Linked DNA regions of Homo sapiens. The protein of the gene in region 1 purifies or fractionates together with the protein of each later gene. This does not show direct contact. Each region holds a gene or a part of one and is shown in the gene's direction. Other genes may lie near its edges.

Region 1 (3,500 bases):
ACCTCCTAAAGTGTTATTATTACAGACGTCAGCCACCACACCTGGCCCCTCATGGCAGTTCGAACAATGATACTATTACAACCTTGTGGCCTCCCCACCCCGGTACTCAGTTTATAGATGGGGAAACTGAGGCACAGGAAAGTTAGGCAAGGTGCCTATTAAACTCAAACAGGGCCAGGCGCCGGGGCTCATGCCTGTAATCCTAACACTTTGGGAGGCCAAGGCAGAAGGATCGCTTGAGCCCAGGAGTTTGAGAACAGCCTGGGCAATATGGTGTAACCCCGTCTCTACAAAATATACAAAAATTAGCTGGGTGTGGTGGCATGCGCCTGTAGTTCCAGCTACTCTGGAGGCTGAGGCGAGAGGATCGTTTGAGCTGGGGAGGTTGAGGCCGCAATGAGTCATATTCTTGCCACTGCACTCCAGCCTGGGTGACAAAGTGAGACCCTGTCTCAAAAAAAAAAAAAAAATAGAGATAACATGCTTTCCGTGTTCTTAATGAAGAAAAAGAAAAAAAAAAAGGAACGTGCTTTCACTGTGAAAACTCTTAAGATAATTCAGATAAGCCAAATGAAACCGAAGCTGCAACATTTATCTTCCTATTCACTTATGGGAAACTGAGGCCCACCAGGAGGAAGGGACTAGAGTAGCCCCATCCCCGACAAAAGAAGATTTGTCGTTTGGAAGGGTGGTGTATATGTATCATAGGTTTTATGGTATAAGGAGGGTATGGGCTAAGTCTTGGGTTCAGGGGACAGTGAAGGGAAGGGTAAGACTGCAAGTTTTGTGAAAACCGGATTCACCATGCTTGATTACCTCTGGTGATGGGAAGCTCTCTCCTTCATGTGGAGCGTGTACCAAGTTACAGTTCCTGCGTTTAGGGCTTTTTGTCCATTATCTCTTTTAATCCTTACAATGAACCCAGTGAGTTATTGTTTCCAGGGCTGGAAACTGAGTTTCAGAGAGGCAAAGCCACACAACAAGGAGGCAACTTGAACCGTCTTTTCATCCGCCATGTGCTAGAGTTTTCCAAAATGTGGGGACTTGCAGGGAGGAGTGGGTCCTGGGCTGGCTGGAAAATTAAAGTGTTCTCATGTCCAATGGAGGGTTCTAGACTTCGGGAAAACACACTGGAAATGGGCAGAACTCCTTTCCATCTCACAGCCCCCGCACCCCCGTTTTATGGCTATGGGATTTTCGTTCTGGCTTTTGTGTAGTTTACAGTTTTATTTATTGAACTTAAGTAGTGAGTTAGGTTTTTATAGGTAATTTCAACCCATGATAAGAAAACAAATAATAAGCAGTTTGAAATACTTACTGAAATTATTGAAATGGTGGCTGGGCCTGGTGGCTTATGCCTGTAATCCCAGCACTTTGGGAGGTCGAGGCAGGCAGATCACCTGAGGTCAGGAGTTTGAGGCCAGCCTGGCCAATGTGGCAAACGCCCAAACCCCATCTCTACTGAAAATAGAAACATTAGCCTGGCGTGGTGGCACACGTTTGTAATCCCGGACACTCAGAAGGCTGAGGCAGGAGAATCGCTTGAACTCGGGAAGTGGAGGCTGGGAGGCTGAGGCAGGAGAATTGCTTGAACCTGGGAGGTGGAGGCTGCAGTAAGCTGAGATTACACCACTGCCAGCCTGGGTGCAGAGTGAGAGACTCTGTCTCAAAAGATAAATGGTACAAAATATTTGTTTCTTCCCTCCCCAGTTCCTGAGTTCCCCTCAATGGAGGCAGCCACAGTTAGTGTCTTGGGAAACAGTCTCTGCATATATCACCACTCTGAGTGCAGATATATTTATATATGCTCCTCACTGTTTTTTTTTTTGAGATGGAGTCTTGCTCTGTCGCCCAGGCTGGAGTGCAGTGGCGCGATCTCAGCTCACTGCAACCTCCACCTCCCAGGTTCAAGCAATTCTCCTGCCTCACCTCCTGAGTAGCTGGAATTACAGGCACGCGCCACCACGCCCAGCAAATTTTTCTATTTTTAGTAGAGACAGGGTTTCACCATGTTGGTCAGGCTGGTCTCAAACTCCTGACATCAAGAGGTCCGCCTGCTTCGGCCTCCCAAAGTGCTGGGATTACAGGCTTGAGCCACTGCGCCTAGCCTACCTTTTTTGTTTGTTTGTTTTTGTTTTTGAGACGGAGTCTTGCTCTGTCCCCCAGGCTGGGGTGCAGTGGCGTGATCTTGGCTCACTGCAACCTCCGCCTCCTGGGTTCACGTGATTCTCCTGCCTCAGCCTCCCAAGTAGCTGGGATTACAGGCGCCCGCCACCACGCCTGGCTAATTTTTTGTATTTTTAGTAGAGACGGGGTTTCGCTATGTTGCCCAGACTGGTCTCAAACTCCTGACCTTGTGATCCGCCTGCCTTGGCCTCCCAAAGTGCTGGGATTACAGGCATGAGCCACCGCACCCGACCTTTTTTTTGGTTTTGTAAAGCCTCTGATCAACACTACCTTGTACTTTGGCTTTTAAAAATTTCAATTTAGCTCTGCTTCTTCATCTTTAAATGAAGTTAAGAACTTGTGGGAACTTCGTTTCAACTATGAGCCCCTCTGCTTACTTGCTGTGTGATCTGGGGCAAGTGCCTTCACTCCTCTGTGCCTGCAATTCCCCCTTGTCAAAAGGGTGAGCGTCAGAGCCTATCCCATGAGGTTGTAGAGTCATGCAGCAGGGAAATTGGTGTCAAGCACCAAGAAGAGTGTCTGGGACCCAGGCTGACTGAGAAATGTTAGGTGTCCTAGGTAAAAGTTTGCCTTTTTTTGTGAGGGAGTCTTGCTCTGTGAGGGAGTCTTGCTCTGTTGCCCAGGCTGGAGTGCAAGTGACCTGAACAAGGCTCACTGCAGCCTCATCCTCTTGGACTCAAGTGATCCTCCTGCCTCACCCTCCTGAGTAGCTGGGACTACAGGCAAGCGCCACCACACCCAGCTAATTTTAAAGTTTTTTGTACAGACGGAGGTCACCATCTTGCCCAAGCTAGTCTCTCTCCTTTTTTTTTTTTTTTTTTTTTGAGACAGAGTCTCGCTCTGTCTCCCAGACTGGAGTGCAGTGGTCTGAGATCGGCTCACTGCAACTGCCTCCTGGGTTCAGTGATTCCCCTGCCTCAGCCTCCTGGGTAGCTGGGATTACAGGCATGAGCCACCATGCCTGGCTAATTTTTGTATTTTTAGTAGGCATAGGGTTTCACCATGTTGGCCAGGCTGGTGTCGAACTCTTGACCTCAAGAGATCCACCTGCTTTGGCCTCCCAAAGTTCTGGGATTACAGGCATAAGCCACCACACCCAGCCTTCCCAAGCCAATCTCAAACTCTTGGGCTCAAGTGATCCTCCTGCCTCAGCCTCCCAAAGTGCTGGGATTACAGGCGTGAGCCACCTCCCCTGGCCAAAGTTTGCCTTTTTTTACAGATGTTTCGTAACTATTGAGTCCCTACTATGTGTTGGACGCCATTCTAGGTTCTGGGGACACAGCAGTGAACAACTGGGACACAAATTTCTGCCT
Region 2 (3,500 bases), on another chromosome or scaffold:
ACCTTCTTTACAGGCGGGATGGTTAAATAAGTAGATGAAAAAAGTAGAAACATTAACATCTAGAAGTAATTTGCACAGTGATCAGCAAATTATCCTGGCAGTGATTTAAAACTCTAATGGTCTCCTTGGCTTTTGCCATCATCTCCAGGGCAGGTCTGGCTGTGGACACTGTGTGAATTCAGAGATGTAACTGTTTTGTCCTCACAGGAACAGTGGAGGCCATGTGTCTTTTGGCAGTCAGTCCAGATGGGAATTGGCTAGCTGCATCAGGTACCAGTGCTGGAGTCCATGTCTACAACGTAAAACAGCTAAAGGTGAGCATAGGGTTTCATGGCAGCAGTTTGAATCATTGTACAGGAGCCAGTTCACCCTGCAGTTACAAGATTCAAGGCAGATTGGCATGACCTGGAAATTTATTAGACTTTTTTCTTTTTATTTTCTTTTCTTTTCTTTTTTTTTTTTTTTTGAGACAAAGTCTTACTCTGTCACCCAGGCTAGAGTGCAGTGGCGCGATCTCGGCTCACTGCAACCTCAGCCTCCCGGGTTCAAATGATTCTCCTGTCTCAGCCTCCTGAGTAGCTGGGATTACAGGTGTGTGCCTCCACACCTGGCTAATTTTTGTATTTTAATAGAGACAGGGTTTCACCGTGTTGCTCAGGCTGACCTTGAACTCCTGAGCTCAGGCAATCCGCCCACCTCGGCCTCCCAAAGTGCTAGGATTACAGGCATGAGCCACCGCGCCTGGCCAGACTTTTTTCTTTTTAACTAATAATTTTTCCAGGTTTGGAATCCTGTTTTATTTTTATGGAACCCGGAAGCTATACTGTGTAACATTAAAAGCAGCTAATGGAAACAGTGAAACCCATTCATACCTGGAAATTTGAAATTAATGATCTGTGGGTGATGTAAACACATCCAGGTTCTTTCTGTATTTTCGGGAGGAAAATTCTGATATACACAGACAAATAGTTGCAGATAATAAGAGTTCCTTTCATGGCTTGCCTTGTAATCTCAAGGTAAACATAATCAAAACTTCGAAAAAGGAATACTGGGAAAACATTTTTCACTAATCAGTAATGACGCTGTCAGTCATAAATTGAGTCATTAGTGATCCCTTACAAGTCCTCATCTTCATTATAAGAATCAGATTCGAACTACCCAAAACTTGGAATAAGCATTAAAAGTGTATAGAATAACATCAAACTGCAACACTTAATGGGTTTACCTGTTAACTGCATAGTGTAACCTTTGTTGCATTATGGTAGGAGCATGTACTGAGCACTTGTCTTTGAGCCTTGCCTGGCATTTAAAGAGTGTTTGTGTGTAGCGTGCACATGCTTTGCAATTGTACATAAAAATCCATGCCTAGGCATTTATTTATTTTAAACCTGGTGTAGAGCTGTAGACTCCCTATTCAATGACACATTTATAAGCAGTTTGTACAGATGGATTTACTCAGAGGGAAAGGCTTTACTCTCAGTTCTCCACAAACGCTGTTAGTTTTGTACGCGGTTAAATAAGCTTTTTATTTTTTTGAGACAGGGTTTCACTCTGTCACCCAGACTGAGTGCAGTGGCACAGTCACAGCTCACTGCAGCCTTGACCTCTCTGCTCAAGCGATCCTTCCACCTCAGTGTCCTGAGTAGCTGGGACTACAGGCGAGTCCCACCACACCTAGCTAATCTTTTTTTTTAGTAGAGATGAGGTTTTGCTGTGTTGCCCAGGCTGGTCTTGAACTCCTGGACTCAAGCGTTCCTCCCGCCCTGGCCCTTCCGAAGTGCTGTAGTTACAGGTGTGAGCCACTGCGCCCAGCCAATAGGCCTTTTGTTTTTTTTTTGAGATTGAGTCTTGCACTGTTGCCCAGGCTGGAGTGTGGTGGCGCAGTCTCTGCTCACTGCAACCTCCGCCTCCTAGGTTCAAGTGATTCTCCTGCCTCACCCTCCTGAGTAGCTGGGATTACAGGTGCACGCCACCACACCCAGCTAATTTTTTTAATTTTTGGTAGAGATGGGGTTTCACCATGTTGGCCAGGCTGGTCTCAAACTCCTGACCTCGTGATCCGCCTGCCTTGGCCTCCCAAAGTGCTGGGATTATAGGCATGAGCCACTGCGCCCGGCCAACCAATAGGTATTTTTTTAAGAAAATGAGGACTGGTGCGGTGGCTTACGCCTGTAATCCCAGCACTTTGGGAGGCCGAGGTGGGTGGATCATGAGGTCAGAAGTTCAAAACCAGCCCGGCCAACATAGTGAGACCCCGTTTCTACTAAAAATACAAAAATTAAGCCAGGTGCAGTGGTTCACGCCTATAATCCCAACACTTTGGGAGACCAAGGTGGGTGGATCACCTGAGGTCAGGAGTTTGAGACCAGCCTGGCCAACATGGTGAAACCCCGTCTCTACTAAAAATACAAAAATTAGCCAGGCATGGTGGTGGGTGCCTGTAATCCCAGCTGCTCGGGAGGCTGAGGCAGGAGAATCACTTGAAACCGGAAGGTGGAGGTTGCAGTGAGTCAAGATCATGCCATTGCACTCCAGCCTGGGAGAAAGAGTGAAACTCCATCTCAAAAAAAAAAAAAAAGAAAAACAAAAAATTAGCCGGGTGTGGTGGTAGGCGCCTGTAATCCCAGCTACTTGGGAGGCTGAGGCAGGAGAATCACTTGAACCTGGGAGGCAGAGGTTGCAGTGAGCTGATTATCACGCCACTGCACTCCAGCCTGGGTGACAAGAGCGAAACTCCATCTCAAAAAAAAAAAAAAGAGAAGAAAAAGAAATGAAAGTTCATTGGTTGGGGAAATGCCTGAAATTTTTGGAACTTCCCTAGAACCCTTTTGAATTATGAGGAGCAGTATTTAAACCCCTGACCTAGACCATTCAATCTTTGCTGAGGAAAAGTGTCACTTAGAGTTGCCACTTGTGTCTGTTATTTGTTCCCAGCTTCACTGCACGGTGCCTGCTTACAATTTCCCAGTGACTGCTATGGCTATTGCCCCCAATACCAACAACCTTGTCATCGCTCATTCGGACCAGCAGGTAAGGGAGATTCCAGTGCTTTCTATTCCCTTCCTGCTGGATAGTAACCTAGAAGCTGGAATATTGGGCAGTTGCGGGGAGCTTTTTTTTGAAGGTGTTGGAGGATATAAGGTAGTTTTCTCCTGTGTGAAGTAAAGCTTCCTTGCCGGTCTGGGCTCATCATAGGCCAGCAGTATGCATTGGTTTGATGGGATGCAATTTAAATGGAGAAGCACTAAGATTCTAGAGTAAAGAATCACAAGAGGGAGGAGGAATTTTGAAGTACTCATTTTCCTGATTGTTTTAGAGGAGAGATGACATGGGCTTGGGTATTAAACTGGATATGGGATGGAATAAGATTTTGAGAGTTGAAAGTGACTAAAAGATTGTATCATTCACCTTTACGCTTGCCGATGAGGAAATCAAGCCCTAATAAGATCAGGTACCTAATCTCAGCCAAAATTAGAACCTAATCTACTTTTTTCTATACC
Region 3 (3,500 bases), on another chromosome or scaffold:
GAAACCCCATGTCTACTAAAAATACAAAAATTAGCTGACGTGGTGGCACATGCCTATAGTCTCAGCTACTCAGGAGGCTGAGGCTGAGGCTGAGGTGGGAGAATCGCTTGAACCTGGGAGGCAGAGGTTGCAGCGAGCCAAGACTGTGCCACTGCACTCCAGGCTGAGCGACAGAGCGAGACTCCGTCTCAAAAAAAAAAAAAAAAAAAGAAGATTCCCATCTTACAGATGGGAAACAGGCTCAGAGCAGTTTCCTGTCATACAAATAGTGAGTAACTGAGCCAGGATTCCAGGCTATCCCAGAAGATCTAGGTTGGGAAGGTCTATATTTCATCTTGGATTGACCTCTCCTCTGTTTTCAGACATCTTCTCAGGGAGTCTGAATGCATAAGGAATTACTTCTCAGGTGCTTCTTGAGGGAGAGAGACTTTATTTTTATTTATTTATTTATTTTTTTTTTTTGAGACAGGTTCTCACTCTATTGCCAAGGCTGGAGTGCAGTGGCATGATCATAGCTCACTGTAGCCTCGAACTCATGGGCTCAGGAGAAGAGAGAGACTTTAAAAGGTTTCCAGAAAAATGTGGTTTGTTGCTCCCTGAACAGCCATAAACAAATGTGGTTTGTTACTGTGTGGACCTTCTGATTTGAGATGTAGGGGGAAGGGAAAGCAATATTTTGAGCAGCCCTTCACAGAGCACAGCCATGTTTGAGCCCTGTTGGATTTGTGAAATCTGTTGACAGCTTCCAGGTAGGGCAGGTAGAATTTTGAGGATCTATACAAAGATAGCCTGGCATTGGCTACATTACTAGGTTGAGAGAGAGGACATATCCAGATGAAGATAATGGGATTAGTACAAATAACAAGAAAAACAATAACAGCTGTCTAGTATGAACCTCATACGTATTATTTCATTTAGACCTCCCAGCAACCCTATGAAATAGATACTGTTATTACTCCTGATTTACAAAAGTGGAAGCTAATCCATTTCTTAATTGCTCTGTACTTTAGTTTCTGGATTCTCTCTCCTGTCCTTGGCTCCTCAGAATTAGTTGGTGATAAATTAGGCAAAGATTTGCTGGGTGTGGTGGCTCGTGCCTGTAATCCCAGTGCTTTGGGAGGCCGAGACAGGTGGATCACTTGAGGCCAGGAGTTTGAGACCAGCCTGGTCAATGTGGAGAAACCCTGTCTCTACTCTAAAAATACAAAAATTAGCCGGGTGTGGCGGTACACACCTGTAGTCTCAGCTACCTGGGAGGCTGAGGCAGGAGAATCGCTTGAACCCGGGAGATGGAAGTTGCAGTAAGCTGAGATTGTGCCAGTGCACTGCAGTGTGGGTGACAGAACAAGACTCCACCTCAAAAAAAAAAAGGGGGCAAGGATAAAGGATACCATGTGCCTCAAGCTCTTTCAGAGAAAGGCAATAAAGCAAGACTCTGCAGTTATTCATGCCACCAACTTAACCCATGGTGGTGGTACTGCTGCCTGGTACACAGTAGGGTTTTCAAACATCTCAAGTCCTAAAATAGCAGGTCTTAATCATGGAGTGGTTGGATGTGACAGTTCTGGGGTAAGCCAAATCTTTAATAGTAATAACAAGAGCTATTATTTATTGAGCACTTAGTATGTGCCAGGCAGTAATGCTAAGTCCTTCTTATGAATTAACTAATTTATTTCTCATAACATTCCTGTAAGTTAGGGGATTTTATTATCCCAATTTTCCTGATGAGAAAATTATATATAAAGAGGTTAAATAGCTGCCCAGGGTCAGACAGCTAGGAACTTAGCAGAGTCAGGATTTTTATCCTGGGGAGTTTTGTTCCTCCGTGCTTAACATTATGTTCTTCTGCCTCATAACTTTGGAGGCTAACCATTAAGGACTTCTTTTCTGTATGTAACAGTAGCAAGAGAGGGCTGAACTTGCTTGGACCCGCAATCATGTGCCCGACATGTCCCTTTCGAAACGGGCCACTGAGGAGAAGACTTCACCTGGTAGATTTTCCAAACCAACCAAGTTAAGCTGGCCTCTAGGAATCGGGAATAAAAGGGACCATGGGACAGAAATAAGTAGAAACATGGCGTGTCAGTTTCACAGCCGGATAATACAGCTGGTGAAAGGAACTCTTGTAGGAGAAAGGAGTAAACAAAACCTGGGTAGGACAAAGAGGCTGCCTTGCAAACGAGAAGATTCCTGTTCTCTCCAGCACTGGTTAGGTAGGAAATAACTACTTTTATTTATGATATTCTGAGTCTCTTTTCCTTTGACTCCAGCTTTCACAAGATTCTAGAGGAGTGTTTCATTCATTCATTCATTCATTCAACGAACTTGTATTTATTGCTGCCAGTGGATAAAAGGAGAGAGGCATATGCTAATATGCTTTAGCATATTATAAACGAATGGTGATTCCTCCTTTTTTTTTTTTTTTTTTTTTTTTTTTTTGAGACGGAGTCTCGCTCTGTCGCCCAGGCCGGACTGCGGACTGCAGTGGCGCAATCTCGGCTCACTGCAAGCTCCGCTTCCCGGGTTCACGCCATTCTCCTGCCTCAGCCTCCCGAGTAGCTGGGACTACAGGCGCCCGCTACCGCGCCCGGCTACTTTTTGTATTTTTAGTAGAGACGGGGTTTCACCTTGTTAGCCAGGATGGTCTCGATCTCCTGACCTCATGATCCACCCGCCTCGGCCTCCCAAAGTGCTGGGATTACAGGCGTGAGCCACCGCGCCCGGCCGATTCCTCCTTTTCTCATTGTAATCCTAATAGCTTCCACACTGGGGTAGCCACCAGACTCCAGAACACTCACAGGGTACTCCTTAAGCCTTCTCATCTCTGGTTCAGCTTGAAAAAGCTGGTCTGTAGCTGTGAGTAGTCACGGTCTACCCATGTGCCTCCATGTGACAGATGTGGTCCACCTTCAGCTGTGCATTCTATGGAATGGTGGAGAGCAGTGCCGCTAGACACTTGAGTGTGCATCGGTGTCACCCGGAAAGCTTACTGAAAGTCCAGACTCTGAGATCACACTAAGAGAAGAATACTAGTTTAAGTGTCAGAATGGGGCTGCCATCCTGGCTCTCCTACTTACCTTGTGACCTTGGCCAAAGCGGGTGCCCTTACCTGTTGGATGGGCCCTGCAGTCATTGCTCAGGATTATTGTAATGATTCAATGAGAATGCAAGTGCATATGCAAAAGTAGCTCACAAACTAAAGAGAAATTGCAAAGTATAATTATTTGTTATGGGAAGCCCTGTTCCCTGGACCAACAACACTCGAGTGCTGATTCAAAAGTGCTGGGACGCCAGACTTTCCCCACTTCATTACTTTACCTTCCGGCGAGGGAAATGAATCTTTCTTTACCTTAGCAGTAACCAGAAAGAGGTCACTGTTTGAGACCCATAAACTCACTGCATATTTGCTATTGGAGAACACATAAAAGAGAGGGACCCAGAAGTTGTAAATTCCCCCTTTTGACCTTGGGGTTTTGGAGATTCTCACAACAGTAATACCA
Region 4 (3,500 bases), 5.6 Mb from region 1:
ATGAAGTAGGAAAGATAACAGATGAAGGTCAAAGATGGGCCGATCCATGTCTTGGTGAGAGCACAGAAGCTTGTGGGGCATTCTGATACCAGAGCAGGGTTGAGTTCAATCTTGGAGGCCCACCCATTTTCTCACCCTCAAAATGTGTGCAACCCCAGCTGGTCTCCTGAGAGGTGTGATCCAGGCTGCCTGTGTTCCCTGGAGAAGGTGATCACCCTGCCTTTCATAGGATGCAATCAGAACCCATTCCTGGAGACCGTATCCCACCCTACAAAGTGCAATCAGTTGGCCTTTCCTGTTTTCCACCTCCCGCTGCACAGAGCTTCAGTCCCCTGGCCTCCCTCTGCCCTTAGAGTCAAAAACCCCTCACCTCCCAAGGGCTTTTAACAGCCCTGGTGGCCCAGGCCAATGATACCTACCTTGTCCTGATCAGGACTGTAACAAGGGTGGCCTCCCTGGAGGTTGTGACAAATGGGCCTTAATATACACCCCCATCCCTCTGGAGAGGACACAACCTAATCCTGGGTATAACCTGCTTGTCGCTCCCTCTCTTTACCCATGAAGCCAGCTTCTTAAGCTACTTCTCTTCTTCTTGCATAATGGGTGCAATCCAAGAAGCCTTCCCTAAGGCAGTGGCTTCCTTACACCGGACCTATTTATAACCATCCTATCCCCAGCGCTAGAAGAAGCTACTCCACTCGCGCACACGTCTCCCTGGTCTATTCCGGGCAGAGGTGCAATCCAGACAATCTCCCCGATGGCAGGGACCCTGCAATCCGGAATCCATATGTAACCCACCTCCTCTCTCTCCCTGTCTAGGAGAAGCCGACCCCTCCCGCAATGCCCGCCCCGCCGTGCGCCTCCTGCCATGCTGCACGCGCCGCCCTCCGCCGTCCGCTCTCGGGCCAAGCGCTGTGCGGTGCCTGCTTCTGCGCCGCCTTCGAGGCCGAGGTGCTGCACACGGTGCTCGCCGGCCGCCTGCTGCCGCCCGGCGCGGTGGTGGCCGTGGGCGCCTCGGGCGGCAAGGACTCCACGGTGCTGGCGCACGTGCTGCGCGCGCTGGCGCCGCGCCTGGGCATCTCACTGCAGCTCGTGGCCGTCGATGAGGGCATCGGTGGCTACCGGGACGCGGCGTTGGCGGCCGTGCGGCGCCAGGCGGCGCGCTGGGAGCTGCCGCTCACGGTCGTGGCCTACGAAGACCTCTTTGGGGGCTGGACGATGGACGCCGTGGCCCGCAGCACAGCCGGCTCCGGCCGCAGCCGCTCCTGCTGCACCTTCTGTGGAGTGCTGCGGCGCCGGGCGCTGGAGGAAGGGGCGCGCCGCGTGGGAGCCACGCACATCGTGACAGGTGAGCGTAGTACGGGCCGCAGAGCGGCACTCTCCGAGGCAGTGGGGCGAATGCACAGGCGAGGAGGCGGGACCTGAAAGGGGATTCAGGCGCATGCTCCAGAAGGCGGCGAGGAGACCCTGGTGGCTTAATGGGAGGATCCCTGTACGGAGGTGCGGAAGGGCGCATGCTGCAGTTTGGGGCTGGGGCCCTTTAAAGGTTCAAGACGCTGGGGAGACAGAGGGGCCAGGCAGTGATCACAAAGGTTTTTGGGTCTTGGCCACCGTCTTGGTCTCCACAGATTGCCAAAGGGGTGGGAGGTGAAAATCTCTGGAGATCTCTGGTCCTTTACTTATTTTTAAATGTTTCTAACATGCTTGATCTCTTATGGTCCACCTTTCAGAATCCAGCTCTTTCTCTAAAAAGCATCTCCATCTCTTAATTCCTTTTCTTGGTTGGCCTCTCCTCTTTGATAACTTTTTTTTTTTTTTTTTTTTTGAGACAGAGTCTCGCTCTGTCTCCCAGGCTGGAGTGCAGTGGTGCGATCTCGGCTTACTGCAACCTCTGCCTCCCGGATTCACGCCATTCTCCTGGCTCAGCCTCCCGAGTAGCCGGGGCTACAGGTGCCTGCCACCACGCCCAGCTAATTTTTTGTATTTTTAGTAGAGACGGGGTTTCACCATGTTAGCCAGGATGATCTCGATCTCCTGACCTCGTGATCCACCCACCTCGGCCTCCCAAAGTGCTGGAAGATAACTTTTTTATTCTGTCTTTTTCATCCATTCCTTCAACAAACAGATGCTAAGTTTCTGCTATATGCCGGATCCCAACTGTGGCCATACCAAAGTTCTTAACCACTCTGTACTTCTGTTTCACCCCATCCCTAAAACAGGACTATGAATGGTACCCAGCTCATAAACTTGTTATGACAATTAGATGAGTCAGTAGAAGTATAACGTTATCTATATTATAGTTATGTTACATAACCCGTATGATATAATATAGATTACACATTTTATACATGCTATTATCATCATCATTGTCAGGCTAGGGCTGAGAATACAGTTACGCACAAGTTCCTACCTTTGCATGGTTATCAGGTACAAAATTATAAACATTATACATGTTATTGACCATGTATGGACATGTTATGGACTATGTGTACACACAGAGAACCCTATGACGTGGAGGGAGTGGGGTCAAGGAACGGTTTTGAAATCTGAAGGCTCACAGTGAAGAGGTAAAGCGGGTAAGAATTAGGGAGAGGTTATTGGCCTGTGAAAAGCCAATTTGGGCTGCCCCAAGAAGTCCAGTGTGGCTGGAACCCAGAAAGCAAGGGCAGGGGAGGCTGGAGAGGTGGAAGAGGTCAGGCCTTACCCTGTAGGCTGTGGCGGAACCAGTAAAAGTGACATGAAGAGAGTTTCACTTTGAAAAGCTCACCCAGGCCATGGCGAGGAACCTGGGTTGGAGGGACAGGGACAAAGCCGAGGAGACCAGTCAGTGGGAAGCCAGCTGCGGTGATGGAGGTGAGAGATGATGGTTGGAGAGAATCAGCACACTGAAAGCATATGAAGGCAAAAGTAGTTCTGAGGCTGTCATGTGCCACCATGCTAGGTAGGGCCACTGGCTCTGGGGAAGGCTTACTGAGCTTCATTCACTGATGTGGCCCTTTCCTTACTGAGTAACTTTGGAGAAATCCCTAGATCTCTGTGATTGAAAATGGGAAGAATAATCCTTACCATACAAGAGCAGACAGTGTATGGAAAGAATGAAAGGCTTCGGCCGGGCACAGTGGCTCACACCTGTAATCCCAGCACTTTGGGAGGCTGAGGCAGGCGGAATCACAAGGTCAAACGTTCGAGGCCAGCCTGGCCAACATGGTGAAACCCCGTCTCTACTAAGAATACAAAAATTAGCTGAGTGTGGTGGTGGGCGGCTGTAATCCCAGCTACACGGGAGGCTGAGGCAGGAGAATTGCTTGAACCCGGGAGGCGGAGGTTGCAGTGAGTCGAGATCACGCCACTGCACTCCAGCCTGGGTGACAGAGCAAGATTCCAGCTGGGGGAGAAAAAAAAAGAATGAGAGGCTGCCTCGGATTTTAAAGTTAATTTGATAGAATCACTTATTAATTGTACTTCCAAAAGTAATGAAGCCTTCCAGAAAAATCCCTGAC
Region 5 (3,500 bases), on another chromosome or scaffold:
GGTCCTTAAATGCCATGCCAAAGAGGTTAGACTTTTATTCTGAGAGTCTAGGGAGTCTTTGCAGCCTGTAGAAGAGGAGAATACATATAAGAAAAGTGAATGAGCCGGCAGGATGGAAATCTGATTAGCGTCTGGCATGGCTGAGTATGTGGCCTTTAGTAATTGGACCTCTGCAGCTTTTCTCCTCCACCTTTGTCTCGGCTTCCACAGAGTGAGGAATGTGATGCATGCTGGAGACGGGTAATGTGACTGACCGAGAGCCCTGATGGACAAGGTGACGTTGGTGATAGCCCTTGGTGTGGAACAGGACCTGAAAGAACAGGAGCAGGGGAGGTTGAATAGAATTTAGCCAGCCTTCTTAGGAACACTCCCAGCAAACCCTTCTCTAACCCTGAAGGCTTTCACAGCTCACTTTGCCGTGCATTTAGAAACTCCTCAGCCCAACCGCTCCCTCTTTGTTCATTTGTTTTACATTTTACAAACATTTGAGGAAAGGCACTGGTTGTGGGGCATCAGGAAATTGTTGCGGTATGTTCCTTGTTTTCAAGATGCTTATGTATTGTGCGGGGAGGGGAGGATGTGTATCCAAAACACTGTTGCACAAGGCAGTACATTGCAAATGTAAGGGAGACACAGACATTTGTGGGCAGAATGAGTAGGATTTTGCTAGGAGGAGGTGCGCTGTTGGGCTTTCAGGATAGGAAATCCATGAGCAAAGGTGTAGAGCTAGGACCCTGCAGAGAACCCCAGCACAAGGAAGGGGAGTGCTGTGTGTGTGATGGGGCCACTTGCACCATGACAGAGCTTACAAGAAGAAAGTGAGGAGGGAGTACGGCACAAATGGGGAGGCTGTTAAGCAGTTGGGCCTGGGGAGCCATTCATAAGCTTTGACTTGAAGTGACGGCGTCAGAGTTGTGCTTTATTTAGGACCTTAAGGGGTTGGTTGGAGGGAATAGAGACTGAATTTGTAAAGACAAAAGTTAAGAGTCTGTTGTGGTGGTTCAGGTAGAATAACAGCCTGAATCAGGCTGGTGGCTGCGGATTGGCAAAAAGGGCAGACATCAGGGAAGGAGGCAAGGTAAAATGCTAGAATCATCAGGACTGGACTGAGGAGACTGGTGGCTAGAGAGATGGTATTGTCATTGTCAGAAATAAAGAAGGAACTGGTCAGGCAGTAAGAGGAAAAGGCTCTGGTTTTGGAATCTGAAGACCTGAACTCATGGCCTCCCCCAAGCTCTGAGATCTCCCTAGGTTCTTTTTACCCCACTGTTAAAAGGGAACAGTAATGCCTACCTCATAAGATTACAGTGAGAAATAAAATGCTTTATTAACATTGTTAGTGTCTGTGCTGTTGTTTAAAAGAGGGTTGGGTTGGGTGTTGAGTTTGGATATCAGACTTCTAGGAGTTATCCAGGCAATTGGAAATTCAGTCTGGAGTTCTGGGCATAGGATGGTGTTAGAAATGAGTGTTTTTATAGTTTTCAAAATGACAGCCAAAGCCATAGAACAAGATGGCCAAGGGGAAAGTTTGGAGGAAACAGAACAGGGCCACTGACAGACTACTGGAAAAAACTGGCATTCAGGAGACAAGAGCGGGGGACGGGGTGGGGAGGCACATCAGGAGAGGTCAGGTGATGCGTGAGCAGGGTGGGAGGGAAGTGCTTCAAGAGGGAAAGGCTGAGTGGCCAGCAGTATCGAATGCTGTAGGAGTCAAGAAGAGGGCATTAGAGAGTTTAGAAGGCCACTGGTGGGCCAGGCATGATGGCTGACGCCTGTAATCCCAGCACTTTGGTGGGAGGCCAAGGCGGGCAGATCACTTGAGGTCAGGAGTTCGAGACCAGCCTGGCCAGCATGGTGAAACCCCGTCTCTACTGAAAATACAAAACTTAGCCAGGCATGATGGCGGGCGCCTGTAATCCCAGCTACCTGGGAGGCTGAGGCAGGAGAATCGCTTGAACCTGGGAGGCAGAGGTTGCTGTGAGCAAGGATTGTGCCACTGCACTCCAGCCTGGGTGACAGAGTGAGACTCCATCTCAAAAAAAAAAAAAAAAAAAAAGGCCACTGGTGGCATGTGACAACTGCGGTTTCTTCTGTAGTGGGCAGATTCCCATTGAGTAGATGGTGGGATAGTACAGTCAACACGCGTTGATGACTCTCGAGATGTTTGATGGTGAAAGGAAAAACAGGAGATGGTAGCTTTGCAGATAAGCAGGGGCAAGGGAAGGGGGGTGGTTTTCCTTTCCTTAGTTTAGGAGCTTGTTTGGAGTGGGAGGAAGAGAAGAAGAGACAAGGAGAATATTTGGTGCGGGGGAAGAGAGTCACACATGCTGAAGGGGTTAGCCAGCCAGGGAAGGAGCAGGGGTGCTCTCAGAGACAGGACAGCTGGGAAAGGCTGAGGGAGTGATTGTGGAAATTAAATCCAGCACCTCATGGAAAGCAGCTGACGGGTTGTCATATAGTAGGAGCTCAGTAACTGTTTGGTCGGTTGGTCCTGCCTTCTGTCTGATTCCCTTCCTTGTCCTGAGCTCAAACTCATTTCTCCAGCTGCTTGCTGGACATGTCACCTGAGCCACCTCAGTTAAAAATCTTATCTCTAAAATGTTTCTGAGTTCCTCCCCCATTTTCCTCCATCTTTCTGTCGTCATTATCTCTTGCCTGCATTATTAGAATTACTTCCTAACTGGACTCCCCCCTTACTGGTCTCTCACTTGCTGGTGCACACTTGGCACTGCTACTCAGGAGATCTTTCTAACCCACAGCCATCTGATCATGTTACTCCCCTGCCTCAGCCTACGGGTGTCTCAATGCCTGGTGCAGAAGGTGTGTCGCTGCTGTCCGTCTGTTGTGCTGCTTCCACCTCTCATGTAGTCTCCCGACACTCCATGTCACCCATGCTGCTCCTCAACACACTGAGCTGCTTCCTGGTCCCTGAACTTGCCATGATCTGCCACGCCACGCTTTGTTCCTCTGGCTAGGATGTCCTTCCTCCTTCTGCAGGCCCAGCACTTGTTGACCTAGCTTGGCATCAGCCCTTTGCAGAACTGTCCTCGGCTTCCCCAGGCAGTGCTTTATGTTCTCTTCACACAGTCCTAGAGTGCAGCACTTGAGCTGTATTGCAATTAATTAATTTCCTGTCTGCCTCCCCCACTGGGCTGTGAGCTCACTAGGGGCACCTGTAGTCCTAGTACCCAGCATGAGGCTTGGCATAAAACCTGGGAGAGCCTCGGTGGCTGTTGTTGAATGAAGTAGCGAATGCTCTGCTTGATGGAGAGGTCTGTGGCACTGTCATGTTTTAACTTGGTGTGTGCCCAGGTTTTCTCTCAGGTAGAGAGGACCCCTGTTCCTCTGCAGTGCTGGGGTCGGGGGGTGGTGGCCTTTGTTAGGTGGGGTTCCTGGCTGGCTGGTTGGCAGGCTGGTTGGTCAGGACTCCCTCTCCTGCTGATGTCTGGGCTCTTGTCACCAGATGGGACTGAGTATGGGCTGAGTGAAGCTGACATGGA
Region 6 (3,500 bases), on another chromosome or scaffold:
CAGGCTAGAATGCAGTGGCGCATCTCAGGTCACTGCAGCCTCAACCTACCAGGCTCAAGTGATCCTCCCGCCTCAGCCCCCAAAGTAGCCGGGACTACAGCTATGCACAACCATGCGCGGCTTGTTTTTTTTTTTTTTTTTTTTTTTTTTGAGACGGAGTCTCACTCTCTCACCCAGGCTGGAGTGCAGTGGCGCTATCTCAGCCCACTGCAACCTCTGCCTCCCAGGTTCAAGCAATTCTCCTGCCTCAGCCTCCTGAATAGCTGGGATTACAGGCGCGTGCCACCACACCTAATTTTTGTATTTTTAGTAGAGATGGTGTTTCACCATATCGGTCAGGCTGGTCTCGAACTCCTGACCCTGTGATCCACCTGCCTCTGCCTCCCAGAGTGCTGGGATTACAGATGTGAGCCACCGCGCCTGGCCTAAGTTTTTGTATTTTTTGTAGAGACGGGGTTTCGCTGTGTTGCACAGGCTGGTCTCGAGCTCCTGAGCTCAAGTGATCCGCCCACCTAGGCCTCCCAAAGTGTTGGAATTACAGGTATGAGCCACAGTGCCCTATTAAGGATTCTTAATGAAATCTTGGAGCCTTCTAATCTGCTCCAGTCTGGACTGGTTGTTCTCTGGGCCTCCTGTGTACCTGTGGACTTCATTTTCTGTGAGATCATTCTAGGCATTCCCTTTAACTCCCTCTTGTGTAAGGCCCCATGTCATCTTTTTTGATTTATTTGCTCAATTTGGTAGAACCCATTTTCCAGTAGTATTGTAGAAACTATTTATTTATTTATTTATTTTGAGGTGGAGTTTTGCTCTTGTTGCCCAGGCTGGAGTGCAATGGCGTGATCTCGGCTCACTGCAACCTCCGCCTCCCGTGTTCAAGCGATTCTCCTGCCTCAGCCTCCTGAGTAGCTGGGATTACAGGCATGCGCCACCACGCTGGCTAATTTTGCATTTTTAGTAGAGACGGGGTTTGTCCATGTTGGTCAGGCTAGTCTTGAGCTCCTGACCTCAGGTGATCTGCCCGCCTCACCCTCCCAAATTGCTGGGATTATAGGCATGAGCCACCGTGTTTGGCCAGAAATAATTTTTAATTTTCAACTTCTTTTGTTTCTTTTCTTCTTATTAGCATCCCGTTCTTGTTTTATGGATGAAATGTCTTGTTTTTCTTCAACAATTTTCTAATTTTTCTTGAAAATTTTTTTCCTTGTGGACATTGTTGCTCATCCCTATAATCTCAGTACTTTGGGAGGCTGAGGGAGGAGAATCACTTGAGCCTAGGAGTTCAAGACTAGCCTGGGCAACATAGCCCGTGTCTAGAAAAAATTTAAAAAATTAGGCTGGGCAAGGCTCACACCTGTAATCCTAGCACTTTGGGACGCTGAGGCAGGAGGACTGCTTGAGTCTAGAAGTTCAAGACCAGCCTGAGCAACATAGTGAGACTTTGTCTTCACAAAAAATTTAAAAAATTAGTTGAGTGTAGTAGTGTACACCTGTAGTCTTAGCTATTTTGCAGGCTTAGGTGGGAAGATCTCGTGAGCCTGGGAGGTTGGGGCTCCATGAGACGTGATTGTGCCACTGCACTCCATCGTGGGCAACAGAGTGAGACCCTGTCTAAAATATTTTTTTTTCCTTTTGAACTGGTCAGATTGTTTAGAGCTATGTTTTTCAAACTGCAGGTCTAGACCTATTAGGAGATAATAAAATAAATTTAGTGGTCATGAGGAGCATTTCTTTTGAGACAGAATGTCACTCTGTCACCTAGACTGGAGTGCAGTGGTACGATCACAGCTCACTGCAGCCTCAACCTCCCAGGCTCAAGTGATCCTCCCACCTCAGCCCCCAGCTACAGGCACATGCCACCACACCCAGTTATTTTTTTTTATTTTTTGTGGAGGTAAAGTTTTGCCATGTTGCCCAGGCTGGTCTCAAACTCCTGGGCTCAAGTGATCTTCCTGCCTCAGCCTCCCAAAGTGTTGTGATTATAGGCATGAGCCACCACTCCTGGCCCACATTTCTTTTTTAAGTGAAACAGAGCAGTAGATATCAAAATGCCTTGCCCATAGTAGTGATGAGTGGTTTTTTTCCTGAAATTTTGTTTCTGTTATGTATTTATATTTATTTGTGGGTTTTAGTTATGAAATCAAATGTATTCCTTACTGTGGCTTTTGGTCAAAAAGTTTGAAAAACATTGCTCAGGAGAAAACTGCCTCTTCTCATTTCATTCCGGGAGGGTATTTCTGGCTGCTGGCTTCTGAGAGCTGAGTAGGGAAAGAAGGCTGAGGTTCTTAACATTTGGTTTGGAAATTTTTACATATTTATCCCGTTTTCAGTACATTATTCCTGCCTTAGACTGTGCTTGGTGTCCCCAATCCAAAGACGCTCTATTTTACGGTCTCCAGAGAATAAGCCTGGAGTCTTCCACGGGAGTGGGGGAGGTGCAGTCGTCTAGCTTTACAGCATAGGGGAGGGGATCCGGGAATCTGTTTCTTAAACATTGAACCACCTTGCAATTTTTAGCTCCTTGTTCATTTCCATTTCCAGAGGTCCTTGTTGCCACCATTTCCTTTTTTGAGGTCCTGTGATAAAAATCAGGTTGTTTCTTTACTTTCTTTACGGCTGGTTTAGGATTTGGATTACCCAGGTATCACTAACCTATCTTCTTTTTAGCTTCAAAGTTTTGTTGCTGTGTCTTCTCCCACTCTCTGTTATAGTGGATTTATGCCTTTTTAGAAGTCCTTTAATCTTACATCAATAGACTTAAGGAAGGCGTGGAACTAATGTTATGTCTTTAGTCTGCACCTTTAACTAGAAATATGAGCATTCATTTTTATTTATTTATTTTTTGAGATGGGGTCTCACTCTGTTGTCCAGGCTGGAATGCAATGGCGTGATCTTGGCTCACTACAACCTCTGCCTCCCGGGCTCAAGCAGTCCTACCGTTTCAGCCTTCCGCGTAGCTGGGAGTACAGGCATACGCCACCAAGCCTGGCTAATTATTGTATTTTTTATAGAAACAGGGTTTCACCATGTTGCCCAGGCTGGTCTTGAACTCCTGGACTCATGCAATCTGCCCACCTCAGCCTCCCAAAGTGCTGGGATTACAGGCATGAGCCACCATGCCCAACCTGAGTACTCATTTTTTTACATAAAATTTTTTGACAGTTCATCTCCTGTAGTTATGCAGGTATCCACTGATTAAGAAAATACATGACAAAAAGCTGGTGTACATTTAATAACACTTCTAAATAAAGTCACAACTCAACACATTTGAAAAATAATATATATGCGTGTGAAATGATCATTCAGTCTGCAGACATGTTAAGCAAGTTATACATAAAGATTCGTGGGATTCTTTGGAACTCTTTGCAGTGCTCACACTTGGCAGTGATTACTTTGTAGAAATAACTAAATATAATGGAATTCAAAGCAGAAAGCATAGTCATGGAAGGCTTTGATGAGTGGAATTTGGATTGGGGGAAGGAAGAATGTATTCCAGGGGA
Region 7 (3,500 bases), on another chromosome or scaffold:
AAATCTGCACTTTGTTTCAGGGGGTTTCATAGCTTTCGTGGCATTTTCATTAAAAATCTAACAGGAGTGAGATGTTGGAGCCCCCACAGGTCATTTTTTCCAAACTTCCTGAACCAGACGCAAGACTCCCAGCAATGTGTATTGGGAGGAGTGTTAGCACTCTGGAGGAGTCCGGCCTGGATGCAGATCTCAGCTTTACTGCTGCTCACAGAGGCACTTAGGCCGGCCACTCTGGGCCTGAGGTTCCTCATCTCAAGAGATGTGGCCAGAATTATAATCAAAGAGGCATCCAAGGGCTCACCACACACACAGCCCGATGCATGTGAATTCTTTGTGGTCAATTAACTTGGCTGGCCTCAGGGGTGTTGGAGATTGGGGACAGGATAGGAGGACATGGAACAGGTGTACTTGGCAGGCTGAAAGCACTGTGAGTTGAAGTCAAGGGGAGAGGTCCAGGCGCAGTGGCTCATGCCTGTAATCCCAGCGCTTTGGGAGGCCCAGGCGGGAGGGTTGCTTGAGGCCAGAAGTTTGAGACCAACTTGGGCAACATAGCAAGACCTCGTCTCTACAAAAGATTAAAAAAAAAAAAAAAAAAAGCCTGGGCAACGTAGCCAGACTCTGTCCCTACTAAAAATAAAAAAATTAGCTGGGCATGATGGTATGCACATGTGGTCCCAGCTACTCGGGAGGCTGAGGTCAGAGGATCACTTGAGCCTAGGAGTTGGAGGCTGTGGTGAGACATGATTGCACCATTGTACTCCAGCCTGAGTGACTGAATGAAACCCCATTTTTTTTTTTTTGAGACAGAGTTTCGCTCTTGTTGCCCAGGCTGGAGTGCAGTGGCATGATCTCAGCTCACTGCAACCTCCGCCTCCCGGGTTCAAGTGCTTCTCCTGCCTCAGTCTCCCGAGTAGCTGGGATTACAGGCATGTGCCACCACGCCCAGCTAATTTTGTATTTTTAGTAGAGACGGGGTTTCTCCATATTGGTCAGGCTGGTCTTGAACTCCCGACCTCAGGTGATCCGCCTGCCTCGGCCTCCCAAAGTGCTGGGATTACAGGCATGAGCCACCGCGCCTGGCCTGAAACCCCATTTCTTTACAAAAAAAGTGGGGGAGGCCAGATGTGTACATGTTTGTGCTCTAAGCAGCCAGGAGCTGCTGTGGCTGGTGCATGGTCTGAGCACATGTGGGCTGCTGCCCTGATGGGTATAAGGCAGACCCTCCACTCCACCAGCCCACCCGGCGGGGACATCAGCCAGAAAGATGGTAGCCATTGAGTTCTAGCTATGTGGGCCTTGGTTTCCTCACCTGCAAAATAGCCCTGATGATCTCAAGGGTCCTTTCCCGCTCTACAGCTCTTCATTTTGGGCGGCTCCCTAACTGATGTGCTACAACGTGCTGTGCACTTTTCTAGGGACCATGTTGTAGACGCACTTGGGGGCCGTTTCGTGTGGTTGACCTTCATTCTGCTTTGTCGTCTGGCATCTCCCTTTGGGCCAGCCCTCAGCCTAGGGCCTGGGCACCAGTCCCTTTCTCATCTCTCCCCCAGGGGATTTGGGAGCAGCTTGTCTTACACAAGGACGAAGGAAAAGGTCAGGGATCGAGTGGAAGAGATGTTCTTGGTGTGTGGCCGCTCAGGGAGGTGGAAAGAGCATTGAGAAGTGAGCTGGGTCCCACCGAGCTTCTTAAGAGTTGGGACTGAGGCATCCTCTCCCGGAAGAAGGGCTGGGGCTGCGGGGAGGGGACCCACCTGCCCCCCTCATCGCAGTGCTTTCTCTCTTGCAGGTGTGGGCAAGAGCAGTTTACTGTTGCGTTTTGCAGACAACACTTTCTCAGGTGAGTCCTCCCCTGCAGTGCTGCTGGGGTGTCGTTTTTGTTTGTTTGTTGACATCCCCTCCCTGGCACCAAACAGAGTTGCCTCTGCCTGATGTTGGGAACTGTCTCATTCTGGTTGCCAGAGGAGGGAAGAAGATGGAGTGGGGCTTAGGACCTTGTGGCGCTTCTGTCAGAAGCCTCTGTGGTCTGTCTAATGCACCTGCTCACGAAAACCCTTTGGCTGGCCCATCATTTTCCCACCCATGGTCCAAACAGGAAGGTTCCCATAACAGCGTCTATGGTGCCACCCGGGACACAGTCCCTGCTCCTGCCCCCTATGCCTCCCTGGCAGCCTGTGGTCAGCGTGTGTCTTTCTGATTTCTTTCTGCGCTCCACATGCAGGCCTTTGTGGTTCATCTGAGTGCGGTGGGCTTTCTGTGCTTGAAGGCACCACATGGTGCACTGACGCTGCTGTTACATCGTGCCTGACTTCTGGTTGTGTTTTCAGCGATGCTTAGCTACTTGGGATATAGGCGATATTTATTCTTTTTTTTTTTTTTTTTTTTTTTTTGAGATGGAGTCTTGCTCTGTCACCCAGGCTGGAGTGCAGTGGCGCGATTTCGGCTCACTGCAACCTCTGCCTCCTGGGTTCAAGCAATTCTCCTGTCTCAACCTCCCAAGTAGTTGGGACTATAGGCACCTGCCACCACGCCCGACTAATTTTTATATTTTTAATAGAGATGGGGTTTCACCATGTTGGTCAGGCTGGTCTCGAACGTCTGACCTCAGGTGATCCACCCACCTTGGCCTTCCAAAGTGCTGGGATTACAGGCGTGAGCCACTGCGCCCAGCTGATACTTATTCTTGTGCACGTGTTTCTGTAGAAGTGGGGTTACTGGCTTACAGGGTGTATGCACTGAGAATTTTCATAGGTACTGCCAACCTGCTTTTCAAAGAAGCTGGAGTCATTTAATCCAGTCCCACTGAAGGGTGGAAAGTGCCCCTTGTCAACCCTGGTCAGTGCTGGATCTTAGTAGCTGTCTTCATTCTTGCTGAGCTGATAGGCAAAAAGGGCTAACTTGTTTACATTTGTATTTCCCTAATCACTGGTAAGATGGAACACATTTTTGTTTGTTAAATACATCAGGTTCAGCCGGGTGCGGTGGCTCACACCTGTAATCCCAGCACTTTGGGAGGCCGAGGCGGGTGGATCATGAGGTCAGGAGTTCGAGACCAGCCTGACCAACATGGTGAAACCCCGTCTCTACTAAAAATACAAAAATTAGCTGGGCGTGGTGGTGCATACCTATAATCCTAGCGACTGGGGAGGCTGAGGCAGGAGAGTTGCTTGAATCCGGGAGAGGGAGGTTGCAGTGAGCTGAGATGGCACCACTGCACTCCAGCCTGAACGACAGAGCGAGACTCCATCTCAAAAAACAACAAAAAAAATCAGGTTCATTACAGATGCTTTGGGTGGGGTTGACATCTCTGATTATCTTGTGGAGAATTCCCTCTGACATGGCTGGGCTGCCTTTAGAAAGTGATTCCGTTGGCCAGGCGCGGTGGCTCACGCCTGTAATCCTAGCACTTTGGGAGGCCGAGGCGCGTGGATCATGAGGTCAGGAGATTGAGACCATCCTGGCCAATATGGTGAAACTCTGTCTCTACTAAAAATAAAAAAATG

What was found.
Region 2: the proteins of VASP (region 1) and UTP4 purify together in Homo sapiens (affinity purification with mass spectrometry; 3 studies listed by BioGRID and IntAct, with this or other methods). This does not show direct contact.
Region 3: the proteins of VASP (region 1) and LRP4 purify together in Homo sapiens (affinity purification with mass spectrometry; 2 studies listed by BioGRID and IntAct, with this or other methods). This does not show direct contact.
Region 4: the proteins of VASP (region 1) and CTU1 purify together in Homo sapiens (affinity purification with mass spectrometry; 3 studies listed by BioGRID and IntAct, with this or other methods). This does not show direct contact.
Region 5: the proteins of VASP (region 1) and GTPBP1 purify together in Homo sapiens (affinity purification with mass spectrometry; 3 studies listed by BioGRID and IntAct, with this or other methods). This does not show direct contact.
Region 6: the proteins of VASP (region 1) and PSMA5 fractionate together in Homo sapiens (co-fractionation; one large-scale study listed by BioGRID). This does not show direct contact.
Region 7: the proteins of VASP (region 1) and RAB35 fractionate together in Homo sapiens (co-fractionation; one large-scale study listed by BioGRID). This does not show direct contact.

The regions. Positions count from the first base shown.
Region 1 is NC_000019.10:45,510,479-45,513,978, forward strand, and holds part of VASP (vasodilator-stimulated phosphoprotein), read left to right. Parts: intron 1-3,500. UniProt on the Homo sapiens protein: Ena/VASP proteins are actin-associated proteins involved in a range of processes dependent on cytoskeleton remodeling and cell polarity such as axon guidance, lamellipodial and filopodial dynamics, platelet activation and cell migration.
Region 2 is NC_000016.10:69,160,149-69,163,648, forward strand, and holds part of UTP4 (U3 small nucleolar RNA-associated protein 4 homolog), read left to right. Parts: intron 1-207; coding exon 208-314; intron 315-2,934; coding exon 2,935-3,030; intron 3,031-3,500. UniProt on the Homo sapiens protein: Ribosome biogenesis factor. Involved in nucleolar processing of pre-18S ribosomal RNA. Part of the small subunit (SSU) processome, first precursor of the small eukaryotic ribosomal subunit.
Region 3 is NC_000011.10:46,908,551-46,912,050, reverse strand, and holds part of LRP4 (low-density lipoprotein receptor-related protein 4 precursor), read left to right. Parts: intron 1-3,500. UniProt on the Homo sapiens protein: Mediates SOST-dependent inhibition of bone formation. Functions as a specific facilitator of SOST-mediated inhibition of Wnt signaling.
Region 4 is NC_000019.10:51,101,910-51,105,409, reverse strand, and holds part of CTU1 (cytoplasmic tRNA 2-thiolation protein 1), read left to right. Parts: intron 1-819; 5' UTR 820-840; coding exon 841-1,348; intron 1,349-3,500.
Region 5 is NC_000022.11:38,712,444-38,715,943, forward strand, and holds part of GTPBP1 (GTP-binding protein 1), read left to right. Parts: intron 1-3,463; coding exon 3,464-3,500. UniProt on the Homo sapiens protein: Promotes degradation of target mRNA species. Plays a role in the regulation of circadian mRNA stability. Binds GTP and has GTPase activity.
Region 6 is NC_000001.11:109,416,449-109,419,948, reverse strand, and holds part of PSMA5 (proteasome subunit alpha type-5), read left to right. Parts: intron 1-3,500. UniProt on the Homo sapiens protein: Component of the 20S core proteasome complex involved in the proteolytic degradation of most intracellular proteins. This complex plays numerous essential roles within the cell by associating with different regulatory particles.
Region 7 is NC_000012.12:120,106,754-120,110,253, reverse strand, and holds part of RAB35 (ras-related protein Rab-35), read left to right. Parts: intron 1-1,786; coding exon 1,787-1,837; intron 1,838-3,500. UniProt on the Homo sapiens protein: The small GTPases Rab are key regulators of intracellular membrane trafficking, from the formation of transport vesicles to their fusion with membranes.